2 separate regions of the Homo sapiens genome follow, and region 2 is linked to region 1. Evidence: fine-mapped expression QTL. A gene starts in region 1. The other region holds a variant in brackets. All regions are shown on one strand. Distances are from middle to middle.

What was found.
Region 2: its variant is fine-mapped to the expression of ILKAP in whole blood (INTERVAL, PIP 0.98).

What each region holds. Positions count from the first base shown.
Region 1 is chr2:238,196,523-238,212,308 of GRCh38, forward strand. ILKAP (ILK associated serine/threonine phosphatase) reads right to left here and starts at 7,173. Exons shown (of 12, transcript NM_030768.3): 1 at 6,977-7,173. The coding sequence starts at 7,031. RefSeq lists enhancers at 6,160-6,219, 7,182-8,054 and silencers at 6,590-6,679, 6,800-7,369.
Region 2 is chr2:238,153,631-238,166,701 of GRCh38, forward strand. It overlaps ERFE (erythroferrone), which reads left to right and starts at 5,340. Exons shown (of 8, transcript NM_001291832.2): 1 at 5,340-5,575; 2 at 7,964-8,086; 3 at 9,106-9,208; 4 at 10,107-10,369; 5 at 10,445-10,553; 6 at 10,640-10,730; 7 at 11,976-12,054. The coding sequence starts at 5,378. RefSeq lists enhancers at 1-151, 9,528-10,028 and a silencer at 5,318-5,387. The variant C/T (reference allele first, on the strand shown) is at 6,934.

The sequences.
Region 1 (15,786 bases):
GGCCAAACACCAATTCAACTAAACAAATAAATTTATATCCCCCAAGAGGGTCATCCCTATCATCTTTTTGCCTCCATTTAGAAATGAGCTGGGTATCAACTTTCTTCTTTTAAAAACAAAAGCTTTAATTAAAAATTTATAAACTTAAGGGAATGAAATTTCTCCCGGGGTCTTTGCGTCAGAAGTACCTAAAATACACAAGAAATTCCTGAGTTAACAAAAAATAACTATTTTGCTTTATATCCCTAATACAAATGGGAAAATGTATTCTAATCCTTCAGGATGACCCTAAACAAATTAAGGAATTGCAAATACTTTCACTTTTCTTACAAGTGACATAAAGACTCTATTAGAAGTATACAAGAAGCAGAAGAAAGCCATTAAAAAGTATTTAGTATGGCCAGGTGTGGTGGCTCACACCTATAATCCCAGCACTTTGGGAGGTCAAGGTCAGGACTGAGGTCAGCAGTTCAAGATGAGCCTGACCAACATGGTGAAACCCTGTCTCTCCAGAAATACAAAAATTAGCTAGGCATGGTGGCGGGTGCCTGTAGCCCCAGCTACTTGGGAGGCTGAAGCAGGAAAACTGCTTGAACCTGGGAGGCGGAGGTTGCGGTGAGCTGAGATAGCGCCACTGCACTCCAGCCTGGGGGACAAAACCAGACTCTGTCCCCAGCACCCAAAAAAAGTATTTAGGATAACCATTACTCAATGTATTAATCCACTTACAAGAATTCCTAATATCCCGAAGTAGGTCACTTTTGCCCAAACATTGGGTCTAACAATCACAACGCCCGTTCTCCGGACAGACTCAAAAACCACATGAGATGTTCCAGACAATCACGCTGCATTCAGTGGTGTCACAGAGCCAGATGTCTTAGGACAAGGGAGGGGACATTTACAGGTAACAGCCCAACATGAAGAGCAAACAACCCTTCCGCTTGTACCAGGTCATATTTTAACTTTTGAATTAACTTGCCCATCTAAATCAGGTCTTTCCACTGCCACTGTACAAGGGAGGAAGTCTTCTTTTACCCAGGTAATAAATATATTTTCAGTTCTTGTAAGCATTCCTCACAATGCAACTTACAGCTTAGTATTAATACTAGCCTGGCCGCCTCTCCTCTGGCTACAATTCAGTCAGATGGTGCCCCAAACTGAGCCCCATCCCCAGAGAACTGCCTATCACCTTCTTTCTCACTCTGGAATACTATGAGAGGTATTTCAATTAAACACAATGAGACCATCCTACATTTTGCTGGCCACAACTGGGAATGGCTTCTAAAAATGATAATACTGCCTGCCTGTCAGGCACTATTCTAAGAGCTCCACACATCTTCTCATTTAATTCTTATGAGATAGGTACTATTATTATTTACCGATGAAAAAACTGAGGCACTGAGGTCAATTACCTGTTCAAGATCACAGAGCCAGTAAGGAGTGGAGTGGGGATTCAAAGCCATGCAGTCCGTGCTTTTAGTGAGGTACTATGCTGCCTCCATACATGGGCACCCTTCCAGAAACTTCATAAACATCAACTCATTTTACCCTTACAACAATCCTATGATGATAATCCTGAGATTTTATAAAATCTCTGGAAATAATTTTTGCATCATCAAAAGAATCTAACTTAGAAGTCTGTATGTGGATTCTTTAAAAAAAAATCTATAGGTCATAGATACATAAGGAAACTACTGATTAGTCAAAACCTTAGATTTTTTTTTTTTTAAATTGAGACAAGAGTCTCGCTCTGTGAGCCAGGTTGGAGTGCAGTGGTGTGATCACAGCTCACTGCAGCCCCAACCTTCTGGGCTCAAGCAATCCTCCCTCGTCAGATTCCCGAGTAGCTGAAACTACAGGCATACACCACCATGCCCAGCTAATTTTTTAACTTTTTGTAGAGACGGGGTCTCACTATGTTGCCCAGGTTGGTCACGAACTACTGTACTCAAGCAATCTTCCTGCCTCAGCATCCCAAAGTGCTGGGATTACAGATGTGACCCACTGCTCCAGGCCCTTACATTCTATTTTGAATAAACTGAAATTCAAAGCATTGGGGGCTGCAATCATTGGACAAAGTGTGACCCTGACCTAAAAATCTGGAAGAGGCCCCTCCCCTAATCTTAAAAATATTAGAACCCTAATAAGAATACAAGACTAAAAATGTCCATTAATCATAGTTAATCTCATCTAGAACTTTTTTTTTTCCTCAGTTATCTACATTCTGGAGCTAAGTCTACTGGAAGTTATATACTATGCTGAGAAAAATACCCTTGGGTTGATCATATTCAGGTTAAAGGTTGCTGTATCCAATAAAGTTAAAAAAGGATGTTAAAATATTTTGGCTAAATTGTTTTTTATACCTCAATTTTTTCAACTATAAAATAAATCCAGGTGTTTTCCAAACACCACAGAGGTATTATCAGAAAAAAGGGGGGACAGGTTCCGCCACACCCCCCAACCACAGTATGAGTTTAGTGTATCCTTTCCACTTTCCTTAATGCTCATGCACATGGACTCATGCATTTTAATTTGTAGAAGACAGAGTCATACTCTACACAATACTCCACATATAGTGTTCACATAACCCATCAAGGCATGCTCCAGGCCAACACACCCAAGTCTAATTCATCCTCTCCAACAGCCACACATGGGAAGCATCTCCACTCATTCGACCAGATCCTTACTGATGGGTTCAAGCTTTTCCCAGTTCTTCATATGATAAGTGACGCCACAATCAACAATCTGATACATGTATTCCTGCTTAATCTGCTAGACTGCTCGTCAAAGGATATTAGTTTAAATCTGATAGAAGCCAAAATCTGTTCCCCAAAAAGTTGTAATTTTCACTCCCAAAACACTTTATGAGAAAGTCTACTTCGCTACACATTCACCAATGTTACCAACTGTTGCTAATCTGATGGGTGAAAAGGTAAATAGTTCCTCAGCAACTTTCTGTTGATGGGCCATTTGTATTCCTTACCTCTGAACTGGGAGGATACATCCTTTGACCATTTTTCTAGTGGGTTTTATTTTTTCCCATCAATTCTGTGAGCCTTTCTTATACCCTTAGTAATGTATATTGCAATTATTTTCTCGGTTTGTCTTTTGCCTTTATAGTATCATTTGTCCTGCAGAAATTTTAAATTTTTACATAGTCAAATTCACTTTTTTATGACTTTTTTCTTGTTCAACCCTGTAGTTTTACAATCTGTTTTCCTCTAATACCTTAACCTTTATGTTCAAATATTCTTCTTTTTTTTTTTTAATCGTAGAGACAGGGGTCTCACGAAGTTGTGCCAGGCTCTTCTCAAATTCCTGGCCTCAAGCCATCCTCCTGCCTTGTTCCCCCAAAGCGCTGGGATTACAAGTATGCGCCATCGAGCCCAGCCTCCAATTTTTTTAAAGTATTTTTAAGATGGTGTGGCCATCAAATATTTTATTTCCTCCTCAACAACTGACCATCAATTTTTAAAGTACTAGTGTAGCAACCAAATAAGTAAAAGAACCACCCTATAAAAGTGAAATCAAGTTACTGGCGAAGCAATTTTAAACCATGACACCTTCAACTGACATACATGGATTGTCAATATAAGCTGCCAATCTTAAAGACATCAGGTCGGCACTTTTATGGGTATGACATAGGAAAGTTCCATTTCTGCCTGATATGAACAAACACTTTTTTTTAGGTAAAATATATACATCTCTCCTTTAAAAAACTTGATTCATTCAGCAATTAAAACTTTTAAGGGCTTGGATGAAAACTACTAATTTAGCAAAATACCTGAAATATTTAGTGCATTCTATGTATTTTTCTAGATTATAAACATTTAAGAGGTTTAGGGGTGGGAACATTAGATGCAACGTTTAAAACAAAAATAAAAAGATCTAAACAAAATATTAATACATTTGATGTGATATAAGCAGTGTAGTATTCTCCCTTTGGACACTCAGTGCTTTCCCATAATTCATTTAAGACTGCGTTTTTCCACTTTTAAACAACTGTTAATGGCTCAGCCAGGCACAGTGGCTTACCACTGTAATCCCAGCACTCTGGGAGGGCCAAGGTGGGCAGAACACTTGAGCCCCAGGAGTTCGAGAGCAGCCTGGGCAACATGGCAAAGCCTTGTCTCTACAAAACATACAAAAATTAGCTGGCTGTGGTGGTGCGCACCTGTAGTCCCAGCTACCAAGGAGGCTGAGGTGGAAGAATCACCTGTGCCCACGGAGGTCGAGACTGCAGTGAGCTGTGTTTATGTCACTGCACTCCAGCCTGGGCGACACAATGAGGCTGTCTCAAAAATAATAACCCTGGCTAACATCTATAAAACACTATACATTCTACCCCACACTATGTGCAGCACCATACATACTGTACTAATTTGTACAGTAACAGTGGCAAGTGTCACCCCTTTTTACACATGTAGGAATAGCCACAGAAGGCACAGTTAGTAAGCGAAGAGCTGGATTCTAAACCAAGTAGTCTGGTTACACTTTCTGAACAACTTTTCTTGCGCTCTGGGAAAATAACGAGGTCTTTTATTGTTCACTGCATTAGAGATTTGTGGTACCCACATATCATGTGTGAGGGTCATGATGCACAGTTTAGACTCATTATTCCATTCACTTTAGCAATCAATATGATTTATTCAAAGTATGTTTTTTTTTTTTAAATCACAGTATTTTCACAAGTATGTGAAACCAGATTCTGTTCTTGTACAAACGATTTTAACCTGTCAAATCTCATCTTGTTGGTTGTAGCTAACAGCCTGCAATGATAACTATGGATCCCAATTGTCACTCATTTTAGTACTTATCCCTCTCAGCTTCCAATCATCTACAAATTCTGAGATCTTCTTCGTTTTAAAGCTATTTTTAAAAATACACTCAGCCAAGCAGGACCTGTTGACAATGTCAGTGCCCTCCTGGCAGATGGGGAGCAGCTGACCAATCCAATCTCAGGGTGGTCAGCAGTTTAAACACCATGCACCCCCTCTGCCACCCTTTCAGCTCAGTCAAGGTTGGAAACTGAGTTTGGAAAAAACGGCAACAGGATGTACCTTTCCCACTGTATCTGGCAAAAGGCTGCTAAGGTGCCAACCTATGAGATTCTGAGTTGCCAGGTTTTTTGTCAGTCAAGGGAGCCTGCTCCTGAGCAGAACCTAATTAATTGCAGGTAAAAAGCAATGGAGATTTTAAGACTCATAGGTTTACACGCACACTGGTGAATCCAAATGCTGTCCCAAATATATTCAGATAGAAATTATACTCCATTGACAAGAGAAAAAAGACTGCTACACAAATCCAATTTTTACCCACAGCTAAAACCGTGGTTATTTTGAAAATGAATGGCTGAGTCAAGTTCAAAGACTCCAGGACCAGTTACTGAGATGCTCTGTACCATCAGAACGGTCAGTGGGGGCAGGGCACGGTGGCTCACACCTGTAATCCCAGCAATTTGGGAGGCCGAGGCGGGCGGATCACCTGAGGTCAGGAGTTCAAGACCACCCTACCCAACATGGTGAAACCCCGTCTCTACTAAAAATATAAAAATTAGCCGGGTGTGGTGGTCGGCGCCTGTAATCTCAGCTAGTAGGGAGGCCTAGGCAGGAGAATTGTTTGAACCCGGAGGTTGCAGTGAGCTCAGATCTCACCATTGCACTCCAGCCTGGGCGACAAGAGTGAGACTCCGTCTCAAAAAGTAAAATAAAATAAAATGTTTTCTCGCCCAGAATTACTGCAAATCACAAGCCTGAACATCCTTGGAAGCTCAATTCAAACACTGCCTCCTTCCCCAGTCTCTCGGTGCCCGACAATCCCTCCTCAAGAGTCCTCAGCATTTCCCACAGTCATTAACTTTTGCCAGTTTTAATTACCGTAATTAGTACCCTTCAGAAAGCAGCTCTTAGAAAGCGAAGGCTGGGCCTTACTCACCTCCGTCTACCCTACAACAGCAGCTCCCAAACCACTGGTCTCCAGCCCCCGCTGGGTTGGCCTGGGGATTTAGTAACAGATTCGGAAACCCCACTCTCAGGGATTCGGATTTACTGGGGCTGAGGTGGGCCTGGAAATCTGAACGTCTTAAGTTTTCCAGGTTTTCTGCCCCCAAGTTAAATTTTGTAATAAGGCCCTAAACTACAACATCAAGCTGGAAGTCTTGCATATGAAATATTCACGCGTTTTGACAGATGAAACCCGGAGACTGTAACCCACAGGACGCAGGGATTAACACAGGCCCTGTTTCAAGCTGCTAGGATGCTGAGCTCAAACCACAGCCCACAGGGACTCCCACTGGCAGGGGCCAGCGCTTAGGAGATGAGCGGACCCCTTAACTTCAAGGAGAGGGGGAACTTCCCGTGGACCAGAAAAAAAAAAAAAAAACTACTGTTAATTATCACAAAATCACAGGATGACAGAGGAGGCATCCTGTCTTCCAGGCTTCAAAAACACGAAGGATTAAGATGGTGATTAATTCAATCTCCAGTGCAAATAAAAACGCCAAGCCCCTGAACTTGCACCGGCCCGGAACGCGGCCGTTCCACAGCCCGCGGGTGAAGTGCGGCCCGGAAGCCGCGGGCGGGCGACGCGCAAGGCAGCCCAGGCCGCGGGTGGAATCGGGGCGCGGGGGCCCGCGGTGCCGCCGGGCGTTCAGAGCCGGTCCCTCGGGTCGGCCCACGCGGTCGCGCCGGCGCCTTTCACCGCCACGCAGAGGGGCCGTGGCCACGACGGCTCGGCCCTTTCCTTCCTGCGTAGCGAAAATGGCGGAGCGGCCTCTCCGAGCTCCGCGAGCGACCGGGCCTCCGACAGGGCCGCCAGTGGGCCGGACGGGGCCTGGCCAGGCAGGAGCAGGCCCCGTGCAGCCCGCGCCGCCCGCCGCCTCCCAGCGCGGGCGCCGCCTCAGCCGCCCCGGGCCTCAGGCCGCCCCCATCCCGCCTGCTCTCCCTTCCCTGGCCGGCCCGGCGGCAACGCCGCTTACCGGCAGCCGGGCGCGGCGAGCGCTCGGGCTCCGGCAGGTCCCCGAAGAGGTCCATGGCGGAGGCTGGGTGGAGGCGGCAGCAGCGACAGACACTCAGCCCGCGAGCAGCGGCCGGGCTCCACACCCCGGGCGGGCGGCAGCAGCGGGCGGGCGACGGGCAGGGGCGGCCGGCGCCGTCAGTCACCTGCAGGGAGAGTCCCGGACGCCACCAATCGGCGCGCGGCGTGGCCCGGCCGCCCCAGAGGGCTGCGCGCGGGCTGGGCGGGGCGGCTGGGGGCGGGGCGGTGCGCATGCGCGTGGGCCCCTCCCGCGCCCCGACTGCGAGCCGGGCGGACGGCGCCGTCTGGGCCCCGCGGTGTTTCCCGCCTTGGCGAACCCCGGGCCCCTCCTGCTTTTCCTTGGCTGGGGGTGTCCGATTTCTGTCAAGTTTCGTTGAGTTCCTGTCCAAGAAGCCCTGTCCAGAGAGAAACGTCTGAGCTCAAGGGCAGCCCCTGATGCCTGGGAAGGCTTTCTGGAGCTCTTGCCATCTCTTCGGCTCGTCCTTTCACCACGGCGTGCCTGGTTTCTGGCCTGTTTTAGAGACTGAGAAACCGAGGCTTGGATGGAGCGGCCCTGGGCGTCAGGACGGAAACCTCAAAAGATGCCGGAGGGAAAGGAGGCATTCCCTGACTTGTCTGCACCCACTGGTGTCTGTGGGGAGCGGAGAAGAGGGGCTCCTCCTTAATGGTGTCCCCCTCCATGCCTGTAAAGAGAAAGGCGGCCACTGACATCGGGGAGCTGGCCTGGTTCTGCAGCCAGGACTTGGGGTTGGTCTGGCACAAACAGCTAGGCCTGGGTGTTCTCTTTGAATGTGAACAATTTCATAAAACACCAACATCAGGCCGTGATACAGATCAAGAGAAAAAAACAGACCACTGTGTAATCAAGTGTGAACACAGACAAAACAGGAACACTGTCCAAGCCACAAAAGTGACCACATTCCCCTCGTCTTGGCCAATAAGAGTGATTGCTGCTTCTTTACCATTACATGTTTAGCCTTTGTCTCGTCCTCCTGCCGTCTAGATAAGCTTCATCAAGATATCCAATCATGGAATCCTCCTCTTCCTGACATCCAATCCGGAGCAAAGGCCCGTTTCCATAAATGTTTCCCCAAATCAACTAACACAAACCCAAATCTTACACCTCCGTTCCAACATCGTTTACCCAAGTTCCCCAGGTTATGTGGTCTCCCTCCATGCAAAGAGTTTTCAGCCCAGTTCATTCTGGGGCAGATGTATTTCTGACGCTCTCTGGCTGTAGGACATGGAGGGAGCCCAACAAGGCTTCATGCCTCTCATCTGCGTGGCTTCTCACTAGCAACCGTTTGAGATATTCATGCTGCCTCCTCCATTACAGCAGAAACACTCAAGTAACAATGCTTGTAACCGTTAAAGAAAGAGGAAATAAATACAAAAAGCGGCTCAACATTAAAAGGTTTATTTCAGAGAATAAACCTGAGAGGGGATTCTGGCCAATTTCGATCAGGAGCGCTCTCTCTTACAGACTAAGCATTCTCTCTTACAGACTAAGGATATTTAAGGGTTTTGGAAGTGGGGGAACGTTTATTGCAGGGTTGGAATGTCTCTGGTCGGAGGGGAGGCTATTGGAGGAGAGGTTATTTCAGGGTTAGCATGTTTCTGGTTGAAGAGAGGTTTATCTTAGGGTTGGAATATTTCTGGTTATGCTGACATTAGCCGTTAGGCTGATGTTTTGGGGTAGGATTTAGGTGGTTTTTTAATCAAGGGGAACTTAGAAAGGTGGTGTTTGTCCAAGATGGCAATGCTCCTGCTCTATCAATCCAGTCTCTATAGTTATGAAAAGGACAAGGGGCAGCGCATTTTTTCTGGCTACTTCCTGCTGGGGGAGTGAGCAGAGAGTTCTTTGGTTTCAGATTGATTGTAGGAGTAACGCTGTCTGTAGATGTTTTTGGGTAATTGTCTGTGAGATGGCCATGATCCTGCTGGTTAAAAATCTTTGAAAAAGGTGGCCAGGCGCGGTGGCTCACGCGTGTAATCCCAGCACTTTGGGAGGCCAAGGCGGGTGGGTCACGAGGTCAGGAGATCGAGACCATCCTGGCTAACATGGTGAAACCCCGTCTCTACTAAAAATACAAAAAAAAAAAAAAAATAGCCAGGCATGGTGGCGGGTGCCTGTAGTCCCAGCTACTTGGGAGGCTGAGGCAGGAGAATGGTGTGAACCCAGGAGGCGGAGCTTGCAGTGAGCCGAGATCTCGCCACTGCACTCCAGCCTGGGCGACTGAGCAAGACTCCGTCTCAAAAAAATAAAAAAAACTTAGAAAAAGGTTAATTAAGCAGGGTAAGAACATTATTCCTAGGCATATTTTTAGGAGAGAGCCCAGGAATGGGATGACCCATATTAGGACTTTGTTTTTAAACCAGTAATTTATTTGGTTGTCTTGTTATTCTCTTAGCTTTTTAGCCCTTTCTTTAAGTTTTTTAGCAGCGTCTCTTACTAGGCCCAACTGATTGAGATAGAAGCAACATTTTTTACCGAATGAGAGGCAGAGGTCCCCTCTTTCAGTTGTTATAACATCTAATTCCTGTCTATTTTGGAGGACTACTCCAGCCAAGGAGTCTACTCCAGCCAAGGAGTCTAGTTGGCCTTGGACTCTTATAAGGCTTTGGGCCATATGCTCTAATGAACTCTGCAGTTCTGTTGAAAGAGATTTCAAGTATGTTAAGCAGGTGGCGAATCAGCCTGCTCCCAACCCAAGCCCGGAGGTTATACCTAAGGCAGCCATTAAAGGAATGACGTGGATGGCTCTCCTCTTCCTAACATATTGGATGGATGGAACGGGTAAAGATTGATTAGGAGGAACTAGTCCAATGGAGGGAGAAAGATAAACTAGGGTACAGGTTCTGGTCTGGTTGATGGGGAGACAAAGAAATATGTGTTGAGACCACACAAAAAGAACAAGCCTTTATTGTAAATACAAGCAGAGATATGGACAGAAAATAAGTGAATTAAAGATGAGGTGTTTGTTCTTTCCTGTGGTTCATTACTCCAGGTGGACAAGGAGGAGGCCTGGGAGACACCTACTATACTAGAGGTATAGGAAGAGTTATTTTTTACAGATTTAATGCGGTCGGATGCTGCACTATTGATATTGAGCCAAGGAAAATTGTGGGCACTAGGAGCAGCACAGGTTAGGCTGGAGGCATTGGCTGAGGGAAAGGCTGTCAAACGAGCCAGCTGCAGAAATGCTCCGTTCGCTTCAGGTGATACTTGGTAGTTAGCCTGGTTAGTTTGATGGTCAGAGGGGTGTTTAACAATGATAGTGTGGTTGCATAGGTTAGATGTTAAGGACCCTACAGGGAAATTTCCCTCCGAGGCTGAAAAGCAAAGTGAGGCTCATTATAAGAGGAGGAGTGTGTTTAGTTATGGGCCCTTCAATGGGAGGGCCGTGGGGCTTAAGGCGCTGTAGGGAGTTATCCTAGGTTTGAAATAATTTGTTGGCCTGATCGGCCCTGGAAGTGGGATAATCACCGACTAGAGTGTCAGCTCTTTCAAAAAAGGAAGCTCCTTTTTGGAGTTTATAAATTAGGGTTGTGTTTCCTGTTAAAAGGTCATGAAGGAATGTAGGAAGGGCTGTGTAAGCTAAGGAAGACAGCGATAAACACACCCAGCATTCCAGAGCAAAGGAAGAGTTAGCTTGCCGCAAGAGAGATTGTGTAAGGTTTATAGAGCGTTCTAGTTTGAGAGCAGTGAGGAGTGGTTGTATTGATGAGGTTGATGTGATTAGGGAATTTATATTGAAAGAAACAAGCAAAAAGCGAAAAAAGTTATTTGGGTAGGAGTAAAGTCCTGGAAAGTTCCTTGAAGCCATAGGTCCCATAGAGCAGTAACGAGCTGATCAGGATGTATAATGGGAGCTTCCTAAGGGCACCACTGAAGGTCTGTAACAAGGTTAGTTAGGAAGTGATGAAAGTTTGGGAGAGAAAGAGACATAAGCGGCTTATGTGGATTTCTCCTCCTTTTCCTCAGGGATTTGGGTGAGGCGAAGAGAAGTGGGTCCTGGGAGACACGAGAGAAGGCCGAAGGGGTTTCAGACTTGGTTGTTTGGGTATGTGGTGAAGGGAAGTCTGTTTTCTTGAGAGAAGTACAATGAAACCAGCTGGGGAGTCCCTGGAGTTTCGGTGCTGTGGGTGTGGTAAGGATGATCTGGTAAGGTCCCTTCCACTTAGGTGTGAAGCAGGAATTGAGGGTAGGACTGGGGTATTTTACCAGAACCCAGTCTCCTGGCTGTAGGGAGGGATTAAAGGAGTCGGTGATGGGTTGTGGCAGGTATTTGTCAGCATATTCCTAAATGAAATGGCAGATGGTATGTACAAGAGGGGAAATGAGAGGGATTGGTGGAGGTGGGGCTTGACCCTGAGGTGGAGCAGAGGGGCAAATGGTCTCCCATACATGAGTTCAAAGGTGCTGAGCGTTAGAAGTTTACATTGGAGCACCCGAATTTTTAGAAGGGCTAAAGGCAAAAGTGTAACCCAGTCTTTATGTGTTTGGTGTGAGTACCTGGTGAGGGTGTTTTTGTAGAATGCCATTCATTTCTTCAACCTTTCCTGAAGATTGAGGTCGAGAGGGGAGGTGCAACTTCCAGGTGATTTGTAGGGCTTGTGCAAGTGTTTGAATAATTTGAGAAATGAATTCAGGGCCATTATCAGATTGAAAAGAAAGAGGCACCCCGAACCTGGGGATGATTTCTGTTATTAATTTGGAGAGTAGGAGCTCGTTTGTTGGTTGTGGGAAAGGCCTCGACCCGTACCAAAAAGGTATCAACCAGAACTAAAAGAAATCAAACCCTTTTTACTGGGGGCATGTGGGTAAAACCAATTTGCCAGTCCTGTTCTGGAAGGTGTCCCTTGGATTGATGGGTTAGAAAAGAAGAGGGTCTAGTGTTGAAGTGGGGTGAAGCTTTTTTGCAAACAGAGCATTGATGGGAAATGGCTTTTAACTGTTCCTTTATGTCTGGGGTTATGTATATATGGGAACTTAAGAAATGCTGTAGAGGGGAATGGCTAGTGTGGAAGAGGTTGTGAATGTCCCATAGAAGAAATTGTTTTTTCAGGGTCAAGTAGGACTAATTTGTTTTGTATGAACCAGTATGGGGGTTTAAATTGTCTGCCCCTACTGTGATTGGTTGTTGTGTTTGGTGTTCTGGATAAAAGGAGGGCATATGTTGTGTGAGGGGAAATAAGTATTGGGGAATTGGGTCGTTGGCTGAGGCGTGTTTGGCCCAATAGTCAGCCTCATGGTTCCCTAAAGGAATGTGGCTTTTGTCTGATTGATGTCCTTTGCAATGGATAACCACAACCTTTTCTGGAAGTATAGCTGCCTTTAATAGATGATGGATGAGTTTTCCATTAATGATAGGGGTTCCCTTAGCTATGAGATAGCCCTGCTCACTCAAAATTTGGGCATTGGAATGGATAACGTTACAGGCATATTTAGAATCAGTGTATATATTCACTTGTGTGTTTTCTGCTAGAGTTAGTGCTCTTATTAGGGCAACTAATTCTGCTTGTTGGGAGGATGTGCCCAAAGGCAAGGGGGCAGCCTCTATGGCTTTCTAGGTGGGAGAGAGTGGGTATCATCATGATATCCTTTCAATGATGGCATATCCTGCTTAGAGGGGAGAGTGTTTTGATGTGCTCCCATCTATAAACCAATCTGGGTCTCCTTTTATGTGAGTGCAAGTAAGGCGGTGATACATAGAGAACTTCCAGTTAGATCAGAGCATGAGTGTTGGTCGGGGTCTAAAATTGGTGTTGAAGGTAAAGAGTGGCGGGGTTAGTCAGGGAGCATCTATGAAGAGATATAGAGGGTTGAAGGAGAGTTGAAAGTAGGGCTTGCCTGCGAGAGGATGAGCTGGAGGTGAGCACCTTGTGGCTGAGCATATCTTGTAGACTGTGAGAAGAAAATACCTGAAGAGGTTCATAAAACATGAGATTTTGTGCCTCAGGAATAATTATTGCTGCTGTTGTGACCAAAATGTTTAAGCAAGGGGGCCAGGTTTTATAAATGGGGTCTAGTTGTTTTGAAAATATACCACTGGTTGGAGGGAGTTTGCCATGAGTTGGGCTAATAGACCAAGGGCCTGATTATGAGAACTGTGTAAATACAGATTAAAAGGTCTTAGGGGGTTTGGAAGGCCTAAAGTGGGGGCCTGTAATAACACACGTTTTAGGTGAGAGAAAGCATGATAAAGATCTGGGGTGGGAGTGAGGAGTTGGTCAAGATTTTCTTTTGTGTGTTCATAAAGGGATATAGCAACAATGGCAAAATTTGCTATCCATATTTGGAAATATCCCACTAATCCGAAGAAGGAAAGTAAGTCCCTTTTTGTTTTAGGAAATGGGATTTGTTGAACACCTTGCTTTCGTGCTGACAGAATTTGGAGTTATGATAAGTCCTGGGTATGAAATTTTTGAACTTTTCTTTTGGATACCCAGTACCCACATTCAGCCAAAAAATGTAAAAGCTTGGTGATGTGTTGAATACAGTATTCTAGGGAGGGGGTGCAAAAGAGTAAATCCACATATTGAAGCAAAATGCTGGGTTGTAGAGGTAGTTGGGAGAGGTCTAATTGAAGTGCCTGACCGAAATAGTGAGGGCTGTCCCTAAACCCCTGGGGGAGGACAGTCCAGGCGAGTTGTTGGGAGTAGCCTGTGTCAGGATCAGCCCAAGTGAAAGCAAAAAGGTTTTGAGAGAAGGGATGTACAGGGATAGTAAGAAAGGCATCTTTGAGGTCTAATACAGAGGAGTGGCTAGTGTTGGGAGGAATTCGTGATAGGAGGGTGTAGGGGTTTGGGACAACGGGACAAACAGGAATAATAGCGGAGTTGATTTGTCACAAATCCTGGACCAGTCTATAGGAGCTGTCTGGTTTTTTAACTGGAAGAATAGGAGTATTGTGGGGAGAATGGGTGGGGATTAAAATACTGGCACCCAAAATCAGGATATGATGGGCTTGAGTCCCTGCAATCCATCAGGGTTGAGGGGACAATGTTGGAAACACTATATAGTGCTTAGGATTCTTCAATGAAATTTGGGTTGGAGAATGGTGGGTAGCTATTATGGGGAAGTCAGCGTTCCATATGATGGGGTTTACATGGCTGAGAAATTTGAGATTTAAGTCTGTTTGATGTGGAGTGTCTGAGGAGGGCTTCTGTTCTTGACATAATAATAAATAAGGGTGTCTTTGGTGTAGGGCCGATAAATGAATGATTCCCCCTGTTTGTGTAGAATATCCCTTCCTAATAAGGGAGTGGGACAGTGAGGAATGACCAAAATAGAGTGAGTGAGGATGACTCCCTGAAATGAGCAGTATAGAGGCGGTGTTTTATATGGGGTTTCTTGTATGCCCTTCATACCAACACAGAAATGGATGAACGTTCTAACGGGCCTTGATAGTCAGTTAATACCAATAGGCTAGCCCCAGTATCCAAAAGAAAGGAAATAATCTTACCAGATACAGTCCCAATTACCCTCTGGGTTCTGTGGACTCACTAGACATGGGGGCAAAGAATCCTGGGTACCTTCAGTCCTCTGCTGTCAGCACCAGCAGTGAAGAGATTTCCTCCTGTGGATGGCTGGGGGACTTCATTATGAGCCACACCGAATGGGGAAGGTGTCCCCATTGGGGGCAGTCCATTTTCCAGTGTCCCCAAAGACCACAAGTTGAGCATGGCTTGGTGGAGGGCTGGGGGTTAGGACAAGCCTTTGCCCAGTGTCCAGGGTTGCCACATCGGAAACAGACTCCCAAAAAGGTGGCAGAGTTTCCTTTTGGGTTATCGGGAGGCTTTTGTGTGATTGACTTTTGGACAGCAGAGGTGAGCATCTGGTATTTTAAATGGAGATGCTTGTCTTTTTGAATTTTTGGTTCCTCATCTCTGTTGTTAAAGACACAGAAGGCTGCATTTAGGAGGTCCCACCGAGATGTCTGGGGACCCTCTAGTTTTTGTAATTTTTTTTCTGGATATCTGGGAAATAAATTGGAGGTAGAAAAAGTTTGACCTTCTCTAGATTCTGGGTCCAAATTGGTATATTTTAGCATAGCTTCAGTGAGGCGTGATAAGAAGAGGGCAGGATTTTCCTGGGGCTCTTGTGTAATTTAACTTTTTCTTTTTTTTCTTTCTTTTTTTTTTTTTTTTTGAGACAGAGTCTCACTCTGTTGCCCAGGCTAGAGTGCAGTGGCGTGATCTCAGCTCACTGCAACCTATGCCTCCCGAGTTCAAATGATTCTCTTGCCTCAGCCTCCTGAGTACCTGGAATTACAGGTGCCCGCCACCATGCCCAGCTAATTTTTGTATTTTTAGTAGAGATGGGATTTTTTGCCATGTTGGCGAGGCTGGTCTCAAACTCCTGACCTCAAGTGATCCACCTGTCTCAGCCTCCCAAAATGCTGGGATTATAGGTGTGAGCCACTGCACCCAGCCTCAAAAAACCAACTTTTTACCTCATTGATCTTTTGTATTGTCTTCTTCATTCCAATTTCATTTCTTCCTGTTCTGATCTTTATTGTTTCCTTTCTTGTACTAACTTTGGCTTTTGTTTGCTCTTGCTTTTCTTTAAGATGCATCACTAGGTTCTTTATTTGAAGTCTTTCTTCCTTCCTTTCTTTCTTTCCTTTCCTTTTTTTTTTTTTTTTTTTTGACAGAGTCTCACTCTGTCGCCAGGCTGGAGTGCAGTGGCGCGATCTCGGCTCACTGCGAGCTCCGCCTCCTGGGTTCACAACATTCTCCTGCCTC
Region 2 (13,071 bases), 44 kb before region 1:
CACGAAGGGACATTAATGCACTCACTCACCAAGCGACAGCCATAGGGCAGCCAAGGTATCCCCTTCCATCATCAAAATCCAGGACAGCAAGGACTCATTAGAAGGCTTGAGGCTAATATGGGCTTCTAGAAAGGGGAGCGCGTAGCCTTGGAACATGTGCAAATGCCCACAGGGGTGTGCGGGCGAAACCCACCTCCAGGCCCCATGTGCTCATGTCCTCCAGGTAGGTGCGTGTTGTCTTTCCCATAGAGGATGCTGGGTAAACTGAGGCCCCTCAGCCTTCAGTGAGCACACAGGGCCCTCAGCCAGGCCCAGCACTGCCAACTGTATCTCAGCTCCCCCGGGTCCCCAAGTAAGCTGGGGCCTAGGCATGCTTCCAGCCACTTCCACCGGACTTGAGTTTTCCAACACCTCACAGACAGGCCCCTTTTATTATCTGGCATCTTCTCTATTCAGGCAGGGACAGTGGTTGCTGGGATCAGGCCATTGACACCCTCATGTGACTGTAATTAAATGGACTGGTCACCTGACAGTTTTCCATAGTCAGTATAGACCATGACATAGCTTGGAGATCTGTCCCCTCCGAATCTCATGTTGAGTCTGTTGAGTCTGATCGCTGGTGTTGGAGTTGGGCCTGGTGGGAGGCGTTTAGATCATGGGGGCGGATCCCTCAGGCATGGCATGGTGCAGTAACGCTGGTGCGTTCACGGAGAGCTGATCGTTAAAGAGCCTGACACCTCCCCTGCTCTCCCTTGCTCCCTCACTGTGTGACACACCTGCTCCCCTTCCCCTGCCACCGTGAGTGGAAGCTTCCTGAGGCCTCACCAGAAGCAGATGCTGGCACTATGCTTCCTGTACATCCTGCAGAACTGTGAGCCAAATAAACCTCTTTTCTTTGTAAATTACCCAGCCTCACATTTTCCTTTATAGCAAGAAAACAGAAGGATACAGGCCACTACTCCAGTTGGTTGGGCCATCAGTTGATCCAGCTGAAAGCATGTGTATGGATGGAGAATGTGCCAATGGCTTAAGGAGAGAGGGCACAGCCACGTACACAGGAAAGATGCTGCACCTCCGGGGCCGTGTCATTCACCGTCCCTCCCCAGTGCCCGGCGTGGTATCAGCTGATCGGTCTGAAGTGTGGCTGCTTCTCCCGGACTCTGCAGCACCAGGTACGTGGCAGGGCAGCCAGGTGTGTGGCTGTCACTGAGACTGAGGTAGACTAGGACAGGAATCTCCATGGGGGAAGTATCCTGTTTGGAACAAACCCCAGGAGACATCATGACTCCCTCAGAAGCCAAGACGATTTTGATCACAGTCACATTTAAGAATGTGATTCTTTCCAAAATGGCATTGCATTCAACTGAGAGGAGAGCTAAAGATGATTATTTTAATTAATCTATTAAAAACATGTAGACAATTAGCAGAAAACTCAAGAGACCCTCTGGGCAGGAGTGAGAAAGAATTGTCTCCCGAGAGACCCGAGACTGCCCACACACCCATGCAGGAGGCCACAATGTATTCCGAGTGCTCGGCCTGGTGCCGGCACGTCATGGGAACTGCACAACTGCACAAATGCTCACTGAACTGAACTAAATCTGTAGGTTCTCCAGAGCAACTGACCTCAAGTTGTAGGGGCCAGACCTGGATGTGGTTTCATTTATTGGCTCTGTGACCTTGGGCCAATCCCAAGATCTGAGCCTCAGTTTCCTCATCTGTGCAATGGGGATAATCACACGATTTGCAAATTAGATGACGTCGTGGGCTTGCAAGGCCCAGTAAACAGCGAAGGCTACCCGCCTGGGCCTCTGGAGGCCACACAACAAGCTGACTTCACGGTCCCACTGTTTTCAGGGCAGAGGGAGGTTTTATTCCCATGACTTCATCGGCAAAGGTCCTTCCTCTGGAGGAAGAGAGAAGAGTGGGAACAGCTTGGCTGCATCAGGCTGCTGGGAAGCCAGGCCCGGGCCGTGACATGAGGGCCCAAGAATGAGGATTAGATTTCAGCCAGGCGTGAAGGCGCATGGGGGAGGCCACTTCCTGCTCCAGTGATCCCCGTTCTGTGGCCATTCATTTAGTTCTTCCATCCTGGGATGTCCTGGCTCACCCCGATGCCAGCCCCACTTCTGACCCATGGGCTGCTCCTGCAGGGGGAGGCCCCCATTTCTGCTGCTCCTTGATCTGCGCAATTCTTTGCTAAGCTCCACCTTCCTCTGAGTGAAAGCCACTTTGAAATGTGAACGCAGACACATGCAGGGGCCCCACCTGAAGACCCCCGGCCTCTCTGCTCTCTGTCCCCAACCCAGGCGGAGTCATCCTCTCAGGATAGTGTTACAGGAGGCTGCCCCAGCACCAGAACCGATTGGATTTGGGCCTCTGGCAGGGCCCATGACATCATGAGGATTGTTCATTGTTTGGGAAAATAACTTTTTCACATGGCAACGGCTCCTGTCCTCAATGCTGGCCTGAAAGCTGGGGCCCCCCACTGCGAAGTGGAATGACATCACACTAGTATCTTAAGGGTAATGTTCCCCAAATCAGGGCACCTCATCCCTGCGTATCCTCAGTGTTGCCGACGGTGGCAGAGCCTGAGCATCACCTTCCCAGGGCTCGGGTGGGGCCAAACAGCATCCACCTTGAGCCATAGCTGCAGCCAGGGCCCCAGAGGGAATTCAGACCTGTGGGATGCCCATTCCTCACAGGGAAAAGATGGGGCTATGTTTTCTGCAGTAATGCTCCAACTCATCACGCACCTCTTATTTCACACCAACTAGAATAGGAGGAACCCTAACAAGCCAAACATAAGGCCGTGAAGATGTAACCTGTCCAGTGGGCAGGAGGGCCTCTGCAGCCCCACGCCGGCTCTGCCCATGGGCTGCGTCCTGGGCAAGCCGCCCACCTCTCTGGGCTAATTGGTGGGGAATCAAATGAGGTGCTGGTGTGGATGAGCTTCTCCAGAAGCAAGAAGGTGCCATTCACACAGCTGCAACTCCTGGGGACAGGAGCCCCTCTCTACCAGCAGAGTACAGGAGAACATGGCACGCCAGGGTCCTGTGGTCCACAGATACAGTCCCTCTGAATAAGTGAAACCGAATGAAATGTTAACACATTACACCGAATGTGCATGTCACATTCAGACATGTCATGACAAAGTTCCACACATCAGGCTTCTTAACAGACATTCCAATAGAACCAGACATGAAAACCCACCAGAGAAACCCTTCACTCTCTGAGGGCCTTAAGACATCTCCCTCATATGCGTGATTTTGGGAGCAAATGTCCTTAATTGTGACAAACCTGCAGAATGTTTGCAGGTGAAATAAGTTCAGATATCTTGCTGGGCACATATGACCTAAGCCAGTGTTTCTCATATTTCTCAAATGTGTCTTAAAGACTTGCATGTTTTATAGGAATTCAAATGTTTTCATTGTATTGGTCTTTTTAAAAAAAAAAATCATTTGTGGCTTTTTGTTGAGACGGAGTCTCGCTCTGTCACCCAGGCTGGAGTGCAGTGGTGTGATCTCGGCTCACTGCAACCTGCATCTCCCAGGTTCAAGCAATTCTCCTGCCTCAGCCTCCTGAGTAGCTGGGATGACAGGCGCTCGCCACCACACCCGGCTAATTTTTGTAGTTTTAGTAGAGACGGGATTTCACCATGTTGGTCAGGCTGGTCTCGAACTCCTGACCTCAGGTGATCCACCTGCCTCGGCCTCCCAAAGTGCTGGGATTACAGGCGTGAGCCACCGTGTCTGGCCCATTTGTGGCTTTTAAAGGCAGGACTTCCCTCTTGTGTCCTCACCTGCCATTGAAAGACATCTTCACAGAGTAAGTCCATGGGACTTACCCCTGCCGGGCAGATTCTCATGCTGGGCAGGGTATGTTTTTCTTTAAACGTCCTCCCCACCCAACTCTACACCATTCCCATATCCTATGGGAAAAGGGGTGGAATCACAGGGAATAATTACCTTCTGATCCCATGCTTTTCCTAAAGTATGAAGTATTTCCTGGTTTCCCCACCTGCCAGGCATGAGGCCAGCCAGGTGGAACATCGCATGAGTGGCCAGAAAAGGCAGGCGACAAAGGCCAGCTTGCATCTGAGGACGGAACTTGGCCCATCCCCAAGCCTGGGGGGCACCACCTGCGGCTGCTGGTGCCCCTTTCAGTCCCTGCTGCCACATCCTGTGAACCAGGACAGGGTAAGGCCTCCTTTCCCCAGCGGGCTCTTCTCAAAAGAGTTCCCCGGGAACAGCAGCCCTCGGTGTGAGTGTAAGGTACTTTTCCAGCGGAGCCTTCTCCCGTTCTTTAACAAAAAGCACTGTGTACCCACCAGGGGCAGGTGCCTCGGGGGTGGGGCAAGCGAGCCAAGTGTGCGACCCTCCTCGGCTTAGCGTCCAGTGGTGGGGCAGATAGTCAAAAGGGCATGCGATATAACAAAGCCAGGGGTAGGGTGGGGCTGGGGCTGGCTCTTTCCTGGTAGGGCCGCCCAGAGGCCTCTCTGCCACCTTCTCCGAGGCCTGCAGGGTCTGGTCCACCTCTGGGGGCACTGATTCCGGTGGGCGGTGGGCAGCCTGGCTTCCGGTCTGGTCTGCCCCCACACCCCCGCTAGGGCACGATAGGGGTCAGTTCTCCCAGCCCAGGCCCCGCTCAGCCCCACCAGGGCAGGGCGGCTGTCCTGAGTTGTTTCTTGGCTCCCTGCGTCTTCTGGGTCCCGGCAGGTGCGACAGGTGGGGAAGAACAGTGAATCCCTGCGCTCAGAGCACGCCAGCCATGGACGGAGGGCGGCCTGGAAAGGGGAGTTCCCGCCTGGGAAAGGGGCGCTGAGAAGGGGCCCTGAGGGTCTCCCGGCTCAGATTTGCTCCACCTGTGTCATAGAGGCCTGGGCCTTGCGGGGCGCAGCCAGGAGAATGGGGAGGGGGTACCTCGGGGGTCCCTGCAGAGGACGTGGGGGACAGAGCGGGGAGAAAGGATGCCTCGAGCCGTCTGGGAGGAGGCAGCGCCTGGCTCCCCGCAAAGAAAATGGGGTCGCGAGGGCCGAGGGTCCAGGGCTGGGAGAAGGGGCGCCTCGCTCCCCAGGAAGCAGAAGCGCTGGACAGCGCGAAGGAGGGATCCCAGAACCAGGAGTTGCAGGGGGGACGCGCCCAGCAGGGGAACACCCCTCGCTCTCCCTGCCCTGCCCCGCTCCCCGTGCCCCCTCCCCCACTCCCCCTCCCCCGCCCGGACACTCCCCCCATCCCCATGCAGCGCGCACGGGAGCCGGGAGGGGGCGCGGGCGGGCGCGCGGTCTCGGGCGAGGCGGGGGATTCAAGCGCGTTATAAGGCGAGGAGCCCGGGGCGTCCGAGACGCCGCGCTCGGAGCCGCGAGGGAACCGCCGCCCGCATGGCCCCGGCCCGCCGCCCCGCCGGAGCCCGCCTGCTGCTCGTCTACGCGGGCCTGCTGGCCGCCGCCGCCGCGGGCCTGGGGTCCCCGGAGCCTGGGGCGCCCTCGAGGAGCCGCGCCCGCAGGGAGCCGCCGCCCGGGAACGAGCTGCCCCGGGGCCCCGGGGAGAGCCGCGCGGGGCCGGCCGCTCGTCCGCCGGTAAGACGCCCGGGCCCGCTCCAGACCCAGCCCGCGCCCGCACGCCCCGGCTCGGGGCGGCGGGAGGCGGACGTGGAGGCCGAGCCCGCCCTCACCCCCGAGGGCTGCTGCATCGCCTGGCACCGGGGCTCCGGGGCTCCGCAGAGACTCAGGGCCGTGTAGACGCCGCCCTCAGCCCGGCGGGGCAGCCTTGACTTTGGCTTTGGGGTAGTTTGACTTAAAGCAAGGTTCTACTAGGTCGGCGAAACCCCCCTTTTCTTTTGGGACAGAAGGAAGTTGGGAAATAGATAAAGTGTAAATAACTTGATTTGAGGAAATTGGGAAGAACGCATTTGTAAAAAGTGTAAGCGAATTACTGCCACCGCCCCCAATCTATTTGGTGCAATTATCTGGAAAACAAAAAGTGTTTTCCTGCGGATCTGGGGTCGGGGGGCTGTGCAGGGTGGGGAATGACATGTGGCTTTGAGTCAAGTGATCAGGTGGCTTTTGGCCGTGAGTGGGTGATCTTGAGCTCTGCCCTGCCCCCTCCTCTCCAGGGTTTTGGAGCCTGGACTGCTGAGCAGAGGGTGGTCCGGTTGGGGAGGTGTGGCCCAGGCCTGAGGAGGGGAGAACTTCAGAGGAGCCCTCAGTGTGGCCGGGCCTTGGGTCAGGGAGACAGGGCTGCCCCAGGGAAGCCGGGGTGGGCGGCCGGTGCTGTTTATTCTGAAGATGCTCAGGGGCAGTAGAGGGGAGAGCCAGGAACGCATCTACTAGAGAGGACAGGGGTGCAGCCAGGCCTGGGGTCCCCCAGAGTTCTCTATCCCGGCCCCATCACACCCAGCCACTTCCCAGGGACTGAAGGCACCCCCTCCCCGTGCAGTTGGCCAAACCACCCAGGTGGGCACAGCAGCCAAATGTCAGGGCACTGTCAGCAGGAGGCAGACGGGGCTCAGGGGCTTCCAGGTGGAGTTTTGGCCTTGGACCCTGTTTGTGGGGGACACAGTGACACCAGAGGTCCTCCCAGGCTCCAAGGCTTGTTTCTGAGAGACCCCTTGTGGCTGGAACCAGGGCAGCTGCCCAATACCCACCCCCATTGCTGGGGCCGTCTCCTGGGACGCCACCTTCTGCCTGTTACAGCTCTACCTGCAAACCACACTGGGGTCAGGGTCCGGCCACAGGCCACAGGTGCAGCTGGGAGGGTCAGCTGGGCACACCCCTCCTGGCCGGTGTGCGGCATCCTCGCCCCATGTTTCCACGGAGGGCACACAGGAAGTGGAAGAGGGTCCTGGGAGGGGGTAGAGGGGAGATCAGCCAGCAGGTGGTGCAGTTGACCCTCTAAGGCACAAGGAAGCACTGAGCAGCGCTGAGGGCCCTGGGCC[C/T]CTGAACCCTTTCTCCGCCCAACCACAGGCTCCTCGGCACCGCAGCCCCCATCTTCCCACCACAACACCCTGGCCTGCGCATTGGTCAGCCAGCTCCCAAAAGAAGGCCCTGCATCCCCCCAGATCAGCCAGGAACCAAAGGCAGTGACTTGGCAGCCGGCTTTGTCTCTGATAAAAGGGCCCAGTCAGCTCTAAAATCCCAGGGTCCTTCCGTCAGCCCCCAGCGTCAGCACCCATGACCTCATCTAAGCCCTCTTGGGCCGGTTTCCTTCCCAGCTGGCAGCCTTGCCTGGAGCCCAGATAGCCCAAGGCCTCTCCCAGGAAGGTCCCTCCCAAAACTGTGCTCAGTGTCAGCATCAGTCAGGATGCAGCGCGGACAGGAATGGGAACTTCCGGAAGCATCACTGTCCATGTGTCAGTGTCTCAGAAGTGCTGAGGAAATGAAAGTCTCACACAGAGGCCTCGCGTCATGACAGCTCGCCTGGTCCTCTCCCCCACTGGACTGTAACCCGAGGCAGCTGTGAGAGCTGAATTTGCCTCCTTAGAACTTCTGACACTGGGGGAGGATGGACAGAGGAGGGTTGGCTAGTAGTTGGGCTCCCTGATAATCACAGTTGCTTCTTCCTGAGCACCTATGGGTGCTCCAGTGGTCGGATCCTCCTGGTGACTGGAGGACGGTGTGATCACTGCAGCTCCTCTGGAGGAAGGAGGCCCAGCAGTACGGGGATTCACCCCGATATCCAAGCCCTGCACCCCATTTTCCCTCCAGGCATCTTGGGTCTGCCTCTCCCATGAGTGCCAAGTCCAGGCCGAGGTGTGGCCCGTTCCCTAGGAGTCATCCTCCACGGGCCGGGGGAGAAGCTGTGAGGGGTTGGGGCCCCTTTGGGAGCTGCCTTTGAGGGCACCACAGGTGACAAGGACCAGGGTCCCAGAGTACAGAAGGCCACACAGTCACCTCCTGCAAAGTGTCCCACCTGCTTGGTAGGAGCCCAGTGAGGCCAACCGCCCTGCTGGGCTGGCTGTGTTCCAGGAGCCCACCGCTGAGCGTGCACACAGCGTCGACCCCCGGGACGCCTGGATGCTCTTCGTCAGGCAGAGTGACAAGGGTGTCAATGGCAAGAAGAGGAGCAGGGGCAAGGCCAAGAAGCTGAAGGTGAGGCCGGCATCCCGTCAGTGCCAGGCCGTGGGGGGTTCCGCCTCCTCGCTCCTCATCCACTCCCACTCCTACATCCTGAACATTTCCAATAGCACACCCCTCACGCCTCGGCCTGGGGACAGAGAACAGAGAGAACCCAGGCAGCCCCAGGGGGAGCCCCGAGTTAGGGGCCTGGTCCCAACCATTTCCCCACACCCCTAAAATGCCAGGCTCTCCCTCTTTTCTCCTCCCTCTGCATCCAGGCCAGGGAGGCTGGGCTAGCCCAGGCTGTGGTGAGAACCTTGTCCACACTGGAGGGGCCTGCAGGAGTGCCTGGCTCCCAGGGACTAGGGGCACAGGGTCCCTCTCACCCTCACTCAGCCTTAGGTCTTGGCCTGGGCAGAAACTTGGTGCTTGGTCCTGGTGCTGCCTCCTGCTTGGAGCCCCCAAAATGGAAAATACGGGGTGTGGGCTTCTCTGTCCCCTGGGGGCCAGTATCACCTGCCTGGGATCTGAACACACGATGGAAGGCCAGCTCGGAGTGCATGAGGCAGGTGCACAGGCCGCGCTGTCCTCGTGGCCTGGCCTTCTACCTCTGCCCAGCCTCCTGGCCCTGCCCTAAGCTTCTCCCCACAGGGGGCTCACTGGCTTCTGGTTCGGGTCCCAACCCAGCCTAGTGGGGACCTGCTGATGGTGGACTCGGGCCCAGTGCAGACCCTGAGATGCAAGTCCCCAAAAGCAGCCTAGAGTCTTCTTCCCTCCACGAGGCCTGGCCGCAGGAGCGGGCTTCAGCCCTCTGCCTCCCCACTCAGAGCAGAGTCCTTCCCTGCCAAAGCCCCGCCCCGAGGGCCCCCACCTCCAGCACAGTCCTTGTACTCACTCCAGGAGAAGCTTTCACTGAGGTAGATCCTTGGCTGGAGGTTGGAGCCCACTGGGGAGCTCTGTTGCCTGCCTCTTAGTGGCAAGAGCTTGCACAGGGGATGCTGTGGCTCCCAGCCTGCTCCTCACATGTCCTCACTGCCAAGGTTCCCTTTCAGTTCGGCTTGCCAGGGCCCCCTGGGCCTCCCGGTCCCCAGGGCCCCCCAGGCCCCATCATCCCACCCGAGGCGCTGCTGAAGGAGTTCCAGCTGCTGCTGAAAGGTAGGGGTGTGCACCGGCTGGGACACACACACCCCGCTGTGAGCAGGGCCTGGGAGGGTGTCCCGAGGAGCTGACAGGGCCAACCTCAACACTTCGGCGGGCACCCAAGGAGGCACCTGCTCTGGGCTGGACTCAAGGACAGTAGAGCTGGCCAGGTCCAGTCTCTGCCCCATCTTGGCCCATGTCTGCCAAGGGTCAGGGCTGGGGATGGCTGGGGGTTGGGAACCATGGCCAGGAGAAGGCTTCACAGAGGAAGGTGGACCTGGCCACTCAGTATGGCGGGTGCTCAGGGACCAGCGCCTATGCCCTGCCTGGAAGTCAGGAGAGCCCAGCGAAAGGCAGAGGCTAGTGTATGGGGCAGCACCAGGTGGAGCTCAGCCTGGCACCCACAGTCACCACTGGCCAGGGCTGGGGCAGCCTGCCCTGGAGGAGGCAGGGCTGAGTGGAGCCGCGGAGTCCACACTGAGGCCTCCTGCAGAGCGGCGGCTCACATTAGTCATTAGAATTGAGCCGTTTTTTCCTTTTAGTTCAATGTCCTGTTCGTTTAAATATAGCACCTTCTGCGCTGAAGAACCTCCTTGTACTTCCAGTAAAGCTGCAATCGCTTATTTTACCCCCAGCGTCTTTGGAAAATGTGGGTGGGGTAGAGGTGAGGCTGGAGGCCAAGGGCGCTGGGGCACTTCTGCCCGAGCTTCCCAAATCTTGAGGGAAACGGGAGCCGCTGCAGGGTCAGGACGCAAAGACTCCGAGGCCCTTCAGGCCGAGGGGACGTCGCCCTCGCCCCACCCCTGCGCCCGGCAGGCCCCTGGTCTCGCTAGCACCTGTCGTTCAGGGCTGGACCCACGCGGCGGGCGGGTGAGGGGTCCCTGGCGCGCGGCCACCGCTCGCTCTGTGCCAGGTGCGGTGCGGCAGCGGGAGCGCGCGGAGCCCGAACCCTGTACGTGTGGCCCCGCCGGGCCGGTCGCTGCGAGCCTCGCCCCGGTCTCGGCCACCGCCGGGGAGGACGACGACGACGTGGTGGGGGACGTGCTGGCACTGCTGGCCGCGCCCCTGGCCCCGGGGCCGCGGGCGCCGCGCGTGGAGGCCGCTTTCCTCTGCCGCCTGCGCCGGGACGCGTTGGTGGAGCGGCGCGCGCTGCACGAGCTTGGCGTCTACTACCTGGTGAGTGCCGGCGCGCGGGAGGGCGGGTGAGTCCGGCCGGGCGGGAGCCGGGGTGACCATCCGTGCCCCTCGCAGCCCGACGCCGAGGGTGCCTTCCGCCGCGGCCCGGGCCTGAACTTGACCAGCGGCCAGTACAGGGCGCCCGTGGCTGGCTTCTACGCTCTCGCCGCCACGCTGCACGTGGGTGAGGCCCGGGGCGTGGGAGGATCGCCCGCTCTGTCGCCCACCCCGCCGCCCGCCCGCTTGACCACGTCCCACCCTCCCCCGCAGCGCTCGGGGAGCCGCCGAGGAGGGGGCCGCCGCGCCCCCGGGACCACCTGCGCCTGCTCATCTGCATCCAGTCCCGGTGCCAGCGCAACGCGTGAGTGTACCCCGGCCCGGACCCCACACCCGCATTCGCTCGGCCTCCACAAGCTGGAGGTGGTTAAACAGGCACTGGACGGGGCTTCCGCCCGTTCACACCCCACCGTGGCCTAGGTGACCCCACACCTTCTTCCAGGTCTCCCGGTCTACTTCTGCCCCTATCAGGCCTTCCCTTCACAGCAACTGGGAGCTGTTAAAAATGACCTTTCCAGCTGGGCGCGGTGGCTCACGCCTGTAATCGCAGCACTTTGGGAGGCCGAGGCGGGCGGATCACGAGGTCAGGAGATCGAGACCATCCTGGCTAACATGGTGAAACCCCGTCTCTACTAAAAATACAAAAAATTACCCGGGCGTGGTGGGTGCCTGTAATCCCAGCTACTTGGGAGGCTGAGGCAGGAGAATGGCGTGAACCCGGGAGGCGGAGCTTGCAGTGAGCAGAGATAGCGCCACTGCACTCCAGCCTGGGCAACAGAGCGAGACTCCGTCTCAAAAAAACAAACAACAACAACAAAAAAAAACCTTTCCAGGCCACTCCCTGCCCAGACCTTCACCTCCTCCCCAGGTCCTAGGAGGCCGGGCTCCTCCTAGCCTCCCAACTCCTTCCCACCTCAGGGACTTTCATCTTGGGGCTCGAAGCACCAGTGTTACTTCAAGAGGCCTCTCCAGACAGCTTTCTGGAGGCCCCCTCCTCAGTCGCCCTCCCACTCCTCACCCGGGAACTTTCTTCCCCATGATCGCATCCCTTGCTCCTGCACCATCTGGCCCACGAGTGCAGTGACTGTGAGCTCCCTGTCTCCCCACACCCAGAAGGGAGCCCAGGTACAGCGGAGATACCCTGCGGGTAGGATAGCTGGAGCAGACTTGAATGAATGGATCAAGTCCAAAACTTCTTAGTCTGCCTTTGAACCCCCAGAGTGTGTTGGCCTGAACTAACTTAGCATCACCTGCCACCACATCCCCACTTCCGGCTGCATCAGCCAGTGTCCTGTTTCCCATCAGAGCCAGGGCTTTGCTGCCTCTTGCTGGGCCCTCGCCTTGCCTTTCCCAATACAGCAAGCATGCCTCTGGCCCTGTGTCCTTCCTCCTCTTGGGGACTCGGTTCAGACACCACCTCCACTGGAAGACCTGGCCAGGGTCAGGCACTTTGCTGGGCATGTGTTGGCTGCTGGCAGGATTGTGTGTCGTAGGTGAAGTTGGTGGGGTCTCATGGGGCAGGCTGACCCTCCCTCTGTTTTGGGTACAGCTCCCTGGAGGCCATCATGGGCCTGGAGAGCAGCAGTGAGCTCTTCACCATCTCTGTGAATGGCGTCCTGTACCTGCAGGTGAGTGCGGCAGGCTTGGGCATCGAGGGGCACCGCCTGGGCATGGCCACGGGTGGCTGGGTGCAGAAGGGTGCTGTTAGATGCTCAGGATCACTGGGTCGGGTGCAGCACCCTCAGACTCCAGGCCTGGGAGAGGGTCCAGGACATGCCAAGTTCTCACTTTGGTCTGGGCGCAGCCAGGCTTCAAGTCCTGATCTCCTTCCTCCAAACACAGCCCTTCCCCGAGGGCACCTGCCCGCTTGAGCAGCTGCTCCGCTCTGCATTCCCAATATTCAGACTCCCTGAGCACCTCATCCTGAGGCCCAGTACTCCTGGCCACCACAAGCCCGCTGAAGGGACTGGTGCAGGGAGGGAATGGAGGCCAGCACTCTGCCCAGGCTGACGCCCTGAGTCCCCTGTGACTATGGGAAGCCAGATACGTTATTTTCCTACCCAAAACCCTAAGTGACCATCTCTGGCACTGTGGGAATTTTGGCAAGTGGTAGAGAAATGGACATAAAGGTGGAATTTACTAACAAAGAAAACAATTGAGTGCAGGTGTGTGGAATAACAGCTGCTATTGAATTCTCCCAGAGCTTTGGAGAAGGTAGAGCTACTCCCCGAGTTAGCCCAAGTTCACACAGCAGAGCCAGAAATGGAGGCCAGGCTGTCTGGCCCAGAGTCTGTGCTTGCTGAAAGGCATTTAGAGGTCCCTTCTGGGTGCCACACAGCATGCTTGGTGAACTCAGATGGTCTCTGCCCCACCTGGATCTTAAGATGCAGATCCTGAGGCAGGTCTGGGTGGATCCCAGATTCTGCATTTCTGGGAGTTCCCAGGGAATGTGACACTGCTGGTGCATGACCACGCTGCTGGTGCATGACCACGTTTGGAGCAGCCAGGCTAGAGTGCTGGTTTCACGGAAGGCTCTGCCAAATGACTGCCTGTGGGGAAGGGCCACCCTCCCACCTGACTTGGAGCCCTTGCAGGCTCTGAGAAGCCCTGCAGCTGAGAAACCTGTTGGACTCTTGAATCCCACT